Homo sapiens: one gene and its partner. The protein of the gene in region 2 purifies or fractionates together with the protein of the main gene of each other region. This does not show direct contact. Each region holds a gene or a part of one and is shown on either strand. Other genes may lie near its edges.

What was found.
Region 1: the proteins of SNX8 (region 2) and ATP6V1D fractionate together in Homo sapiens (co-fractionation; one large-scale study listed by BioGRID). This does not show direct contact.

What each region holds. Positions count from the first base shown.
Region 1 is NC_000014.9:67,342,502-67,346,314, forward strand, and holds part of ATP6V1D (V-type proton ATPase subunit D), read right to left. Parts: intron 3,371-3,813; coding exon 3,267-3,370; intron 938-3,266; coding exon 871-937; intron 1-870. UniProt on the Homo sapiens protein: Subunit of the V1 complex of vacuolar(H+)-ATPase (V-ATPase), a multisubunit enzyme composed of a peripheral complex (V1) that hydrolyzes ATP and a membrane integral complex (V0) that translocates protons.
Region 2 is NC_000007.14:2,272,870-2,276,682, forward strand, and holds part of SNX8 (sorting nexin-8), read right to left. Parts: intron 2,361-3,813; coding exon 2,243-2,360; intron 1-2,242. UniProt on the Homo sapiens protein: May be involved in several stages of intracellular trafficking. May play a role in intracellular protein transport from early endosomes to the trans-Golgi network.

The DNA of each region.
Region 1 (3,813 bases), on a different chromosome or scaffold from region 2:
TTTACCTGTTCAGCTTCTAGAATGTGAACTCTGAGGGTAAGAACTACGAATTATCCTTTTTTTTTTTTTTTTCTTTGCTTCCACTTTCATGTACAAGGCCTGGCACTAGCAAGCAGTCAAAAAGGTTTTTTAAAAAATGAGGTAACTTTCTCACTAACATTAATATAGTTAATATATAGTTAATATAACAGTTAATATATTTCTAACAATATAGTTAATATATCATATTATACATAGTTAATATAATAGTTAATATATTTCTCACTAGCATTAATATAGAAATTCCCAAGCAAAGGAATTTCTTTACTTCAAATTTTGCTTTCTTACCTAAAATTGAGTGTTTCTTTAATAAAAACTAAGTTTATTGAGCAAAAAGTACCATCAACACTAAGCAGTCATATTTTTTAAATAGTGAAATAAAAGAGATGGAAAATAAGTGCATCAAATGGGAAATTTTTTAGAAATCAAGGAGAATGGCTTATACTGATTTAAAGTTAAATATTTAATGTACTCAAAAAGTTGCATCACTCAACCATTAGAAAGAACTACAGAAAACACTAAGGATCTTGAGAAATATTCCTACCCTTAAATAACTGCATGAATAACTGGAAATGAAGAAAACATTCCATAATTTTTAAGTCACCACTTTCCTATGTGTGTAACTCCCCCAGATCATACAAGTACTTCTATCAGAACACTTCATAACACTTTTTTTTTTTACTATGGACACACTTCTCTCTTTGCACTGTGGGCAAGGGAAGCATCTTATTCATCTTTCAGTCTTCAGTACAGTCCCTGAATTCTAGCAGTTTCACGACAAGTGGAGGGTATGGACAAGTGACAAAGCACCTCACAGTACCTAATACTCACCATGTTCAATGGCATTTACACGCCTGTTGGTTATCTTAATAGCTTCATCCAAAGTAACAAAAGAAGTCTAAAATAAGAACAAATTAATAATGTAAGCACAAAGTCTTCCTAATCATTCCCTGATCACTTGACTCCACTAAGACTGCACTTGTAGAAAACATTTGAGAACCAAGACAACTTCTTTTTGGCATGCTTAAAAAACAAAATTCTTAGGCTGGGCGCATGGCTCACGCCTATAACCCCAATACTTTGGGAGGCTGAGGTGGGAGAATCACTTGAAGTTGGGAGTTCAAGACCAGCCTGGGCAACACAATGAGACCTTGCCTCTACAAGAAATAAATTTTAAAAATTAGCTGGGTGTAGTAGCATGCACCTGTAGTCCCAGCTGCTTGGTAATCTGTGATGGGAGGATCGTTTGAGGCTGCAGTGAGCTATTACTGTGCCACTGTACTCCAGCTTGGGTGACAGAGTAAGACCCTGTCTCTTCATAACAAAACAAAAACAAAATTCTTGTGAGATTTCCATAGGGCTAACACTATTTCCATGCTATTGATAACCTACATGTCACATTTGGTAGGTTTCCAAATTAACCTGCCTGGGCAGATTGAGGGATCTTATGATTCATGGTTTACATCCTGTCCCTGAGTAAGGAAATCTTAAGTTTCTCAGACTGCTGACATACTGATTAATATGCAACCTACTGACGCTGAAAATGACACTGATTTGTTTCTGATTCATGAAGTTTTACTTCATGATTTACTTGCATGTAGAACATTTTAGCTTGTATTTGTAATCTGTAGCCAATGATTGTGACCTCTGTATTGTACTCGCCAATGAAAAGGACAACTTGGGTATGAGGAGTCCTCCCTTCTCCTAAACTTTCCCATAAAAGCCTTCCAACTTGTAGCAGACTCTAGAACACACCCAACTTTGTTGGTGTCTTCCCGGGTCAATCCTCACATTTGGCTTTCAATAAACCTTTATCAAATCATTTCTGCTTCAACAGGCTTTACTTGAGTTGACACTATTATAATTTGTTTACTATAGTCTCACCTAAATAACAACATAAAAATGACAAGAAAGAATCAAGCATTAATAACCTAGATATATACTAACTGGCCACATAGGGGAAAAAATGGTCTTCCATGCACAAACGATGTTTATTTACATTTACATTTAAATCTAGTATCAACTTGCTATTCTTACTTAGCAAAGAGTGAAACTGGGCTGGGTGAGGTGGCTCACACTTATAATTCCAGCACTTTGGGAGGCTGAGATGGCAGGATTTCTTGAGGCCAGGAGTTTGAGACCAGCCTGGGCAACGTAGCAAGACCTCATCTCAACTAAAAAATTCAAAAATATTATCCAGGCGAGGTGGCACAAACTTGTAGTCCAAGCTACTTGGGAGGCTGAGGCGGGAGACTGCTTGAGCCCAGGAGATCCAGGCTGCAGTTAGCCAAGATCGCAACACTGCACTCCAGCCTGGGCAACAGAGCAAGATTCTGTCTCAAAGAAAAAAACAAACAAACAAACAAAAAAAACAAGAGTGTACCATAGCACATACATTTTGTTAACAAGAAGAAGCAGGGGCCGGGTGTGGTGGCTCATACCTATAATCCCAGCACTTTGGAAGGATGAGGCGGGCTGATTACTTGAGCCCAGGAGTTCGAGACCAGCCTGGACGACATGGTGAAACCCCACCTCTACAAAAAATACAAAAATTAGCTAGGTGTGATGGGGCATGCCTATAGTCCCAGCTACTCAGGAGGCTGAGGTGGGCGGATCACTTAAGCCCAGGAGGTTAAGGTTGCAGTGAGCTGGGATTATGCCACTGCACTCCAGCCTGGGTGACACAGTGAGACCCCATTTCGAAAAATAAATAAATTTTTAAATTAAAAGTAGGGGCCAGGTGCAGTGGCTCATGCCTGTAATCCTAGCACTTTGGGAGGCCGAGGCGGGTGGATCACCTGAAGTCAGGAGTTCGAGACCAGCCTGACAAACATGGCAAAACCCTGTCTCTACAAAAAATACAAAAGTTAGCCAGGCATGGTGGCACATGTCTGTAATCAGCTACTTGGGAGGCTGAGGCAGAAGAATCACTTGAACCCAGGAGGCAGAGGTTGCAGTGAGCCGAGGTCGCGCCATTGCACTCCAGCCTGGGCAACAAGAGTAAAACTCCATCTCAAAAAAATAAAAAATACATAAATTTTAAAAAGTAGGGACAATGGTACAAAAGCCATCACTTCAGAAATCAAAATATTATGTTTGCTTTACATAGGATCATGGGAACAGTTAAAAGTACAAAGCACAGTATATGCTGACTCAAGACCTGACTCTCCTCCACTTGACTGTTACAAATCAAACTACAGGAGTTCTCCAGGTCTTTTGCTACTTACCTGCAGAGAAGCTAGTTCCACCAGTAGTTCCACTGCTTTGGCATAATTCCTCTTTAATTTAGCCAACTGTTCCCCACCTCTGGCTAAACCAGTCAGTTCATAACCTGAAAGGACCAGTCAGACAACATTTTTAATTAGAGTAAAATATCTTCCCTATAAAATTCCCCAAAAGGAGATAATTCAGAATAATAACAAATATGGAAAGATGAATTCACTAATCTTCATTGAATGTAAACATGAAGTGCCTATCTCACTCCCCAAACACTATAGGAGCATGCTACTAAATACAGTTTCCCACAAGAATACTATTCTAAATATAACTACAAAGGAAGCTTTTAACCAACCTTCACTTCACTAGCTTGATGCCCCTTATTCCCTTTGAAAATCATACTGCCTGATGCCCAGAGTACGATGACACTCTGTGAACAGGTGACTCTCTCTAGAATGCTCTACTTCTTCGTATGAAATGTACTTAATATTCTATATGATTTAATTAAATATCACATGAAGCAAGGAAATACAAGTGCCAAAAGAAAGAATATTATTT
Region 2 (3,813 bases):
GTCGCCCAGGCTGGAGTGCAGTGGTGTCATCTCGGCTCACTGCAACCTCTAACTCCCAGGTTCAAGCGATTCTCCTGCCTCAGCCTCCCAAGTAGCTGGGATTACAGGCACCCGCCACCACACCTGGCTAATGTTTATACTTTTATTAGAGAGGAGGTTTCACCATGTTGGTCATGCTGGTCTCGAACTCCTGACCTCAGGTGATCCGCCCACCTCAGCCTCCCAAAGTGCTGGGATTACAGGCATGAGCCACCAGCGCCCAGCCTTTAAATACTATTTTTAATGTATTAAGAAATACAGCCAGGAGTGTGGCTCACACCTGTAATCCCAGCCTCTTGGGAGGCTGAGGAGGGCAGATCACTTGAGGCCAAGGAGTTCTACATCAGCCTGGCCAGCGTAGCGAAACCCTGTCTCTGAAAAATACCATAAAAGAGGCCAGGCGCAGTGGCTCACACCTGTAATCCCAGCACTTTGGGAGGCTGAGGCAGGTGGATCATGAGGTCAGGAGATTGAGACCATCCTAACACGGTGAAACCCCATCTCCACTAAAAATACAAAAAAAAATAATTAGCCAGGCGTGGTGGCGGGCGCCTGTAGTCCCAGCTACTTGGGAGACTCAGGCAGGAGAATGGCGTGAACCCGGCAGGCGGAGCTTGCAGTGAGCCGAGACCGCACCACTGCACTCCAGCCTGGGTGACACGGCGAGTCTTCGTCTCAAAAACAAAAACAAAAACAAAAAACACCATAAAAGAGGCCAGGTGCGGTGGCTCACACCTGTAATCCCAGCACTTTGGGAGGCTGAGGTGCGCGGATCACGAGGTCAGGAGATTGAGACCATCCTGGCTAACACGGTGAAACCCCGTCTCTACTAAAAATACAAAAAAATTAGCCAGGCGTGGTGGCGGGCGCCTGTAGTCCCAGCTACGCGGGAGGCTGAGGCAGGAGAATGGCGTGAACCCGGGAGGCGGAGCTTGCCATGAGCCGAGATTGCACCACTGCACTCCAGCCTGGGCGACAGAGCGAGACTCCATGTAAAAAAAAAAAAAAAACACCATAAAAGAAAGAAAACAAACAATACAGGTAGGTGGCTGGGGCTCCCTCCTGGCTCAGCACTGGCAGGCCTCTTCCGATGAGGCTGCACTTCCTTAAATGCGCAAGCGGCCCAGCGCGCGTGTGCAGTTTCCAGGCGCTGAACGCCAGCCAGCGCTCATCAACTCGGATGCCCAGGCCTGAGCCAGCATCACACATCCCTGTCGCGTCCTCTGCTCTCTGCTGCCCTGAGCGCCCGTGTGCCCTTCAGCGTGAGCTGAATGATCTGCTCTGTGGCCTTCACATGCGGCGGGGTGAAAATCACATCATCAGACCCTGGGCTGCTTGCTCAGTGACCGATGAGAGGCAGAAGCATTTATGCATCATCGTACGATTTCAGATGCGGGGAACTGGCGACTGTGTTAGCTCCCATGCTGCGTCCCCGTCCAGGACACGGTGACTGTGGAAGGGCTGGGAACGGCAGAAAGCCATGATCAGCTCTAAGCACTCATTTCCCCAGCATGTTTTATTCAGAATTTGAGGAACGGGCTGAGGGAGAGACCACCAGTGAGATCAGAGCTGGCAGCCGCCATCCCAAGCTCTGCAGCCCAGGGGGACACAGGCCTGGGGAGCAGCTCTGAGGTCGTCTGCGATCTCCCACCTGGCCCGAGGCCATCTTCAGGCAGAGAGGTGAAGGTGAGGCAGCCGTGTGCTGCTTTTTCTCTCCTGCAAGATGCAGCTGACATTTCCTACTTGCACAACTCAGTTCTCTTCCATGAGGCCACCGAGCGCTCCCATGGTGCCCATGGCTCAGGCTGCCATGGCTTTGCAGATGCAGGCAGGGCAATGCCAGCCAGGTGAGCACACAGTGCTCCTGGCAGCCCTCTCGGGAGCTCTCGGGAGCCCTGGCCACTGCACTCTGGAGAGGAGAACTAGGGTTCTCTTTCACACCTGCACAGCAAGGGCTTCCCCACCTGTCAGTCATGCAGCTGAAGGCTCTGGTGGGCCAAGGCTGCCGGGTGCCAGTCTCCCTGCCTGCACCAAGGCTGGGCTCAAGCCACAGCTCTGTCCCAGATGCCAAAAGGCTGGAGTTTCCCCCGCAGCCCTGCACCTGCCCCGGTCTACAGTGGGGTCCATCCCTGAGCCAGGACCACAGGGTCCAGGAGATGGGCTCGCTCCCTCCGCCCCCGGTGGGCAGCACGCCTGGCTTTACCTCCCAGCATTCTCTTGGGTGGCAGGGCAGGCACCATACGGTAGGGGAACTTGTGCAGGAGCATCTCCTGGAAGACCACGAAGTCATTGTACCGTCTGTATACCGAGGACTTGAAGCGCTGCAAGAGAAGGGTCGGTGCTTAGATCCGACGTTGGAAACTATGCTGTCGCGTCACTTCCCCTCAACAGAGCCCGGGAAAACGACAGCACCAAGTGCATCTTCTCTCACCAGGCCTTTACTAAATGGAGAAACCCTGTGACGGCTTCGTATATGGAAATACAACTTTTAAACTTTGTATAGCTCTTAGGCCGGGTGCGGTGGCTCCCGCCTGTAATCTCAGCATTCTGGGAGGTTGAGGCGGGTGAATCACCTGAGGTCAGGAGTTAAAGAGACCAGCCTGGCCAACATGGCAAAATCCCATCTCTACTAAAAATACAAAAATTAGCTGGGCATGGTGGTGGGCGGCTGTAGTCCCAGCTACTTTGGAGCCTGAGGCAGGAGAATCCCTTGAACCCTGGAGACAGAGGTTGCAGTGATCCAAGATCGTGCCACTGCACTCTAGCCTGGACGACAAAGCGAGACCTTGTCTTAAAAAAATTAAAAAAGGCCGGGCGCGGTGGCTCACGCCTGCATTCCCAGCACTTTGGGAGGCCGAGACAGGCGGATCATGAGGTCAGGAGATCGAGACCATCCTGGCCAACACGGTGAAACCTCGTCTCTACTAAAAACACAAAAAATTAGCCGGGCGTGGTGGTGGGCACCTGTAGTCCCAGCTACTCAGGAAGCTGAGGCAGGAGAATGGCGTGAACCCGGGAGGCAGAGCTTGCGGTGAGCTGAGATCACGCCACTGCACTCCAGCCTGGGCGGCAGAGCGAGACTCCATTTCAAAAAAAAAAAAAAAACTAAACAAATGGTATGAAGCATAGTGGCTTCCCACCTGGTCAGTGACTGGCCCGTTACACACACATCAGGGTGACCAAACTGCCCCCTTGACAAATGTTCCCTATGTGGCAATGAATTTACTTAAGGGACGGGCAGCTTAGTAAGACTGGACAAAAGGCCAGCCGCTGGCTCCCTGGCAGGCAACGGCACGTCTCACACGCTCAGAGTTGCCTCACCCCCAGGCTGCCAGGCCCCAGAAGGAAGGGGTGGCTCGCTCTGCTCCCCCGTGGCATCCCACCAGCTGGTCCACATCCCCGACTGCGGCCCAGAGGGCCGGGAACCACGGCAAAGCCAGACAGCAAGGCGGCTCTGACACGGTCCTCCAAGGGAGTCCTCCCCTCTGACCCGCTTTGTCCTTTGGTAGCAGTACTGACAACCATTCGGACCGTGTGGCCACAGGCTCTGGAACACAGTGAAGCACAGCAGAGCAGACGGCAGGGAGGGGAGACCGGCTCGCTTGTCCTTAAGGCCAGGTGCAGTGGCTCATGCCTGTGAGCCTAGCACTTTGGCGGGCCAAAGTGAGAGGACTGCTTGAGCCCAGGAGTTCGAGACCAGCTGAGACAACATAGCAAGTCTCCATTTGTACTTTAAAAAAAAAAAAAAAAAAAAGACTGGGCATGGTGGCTCAC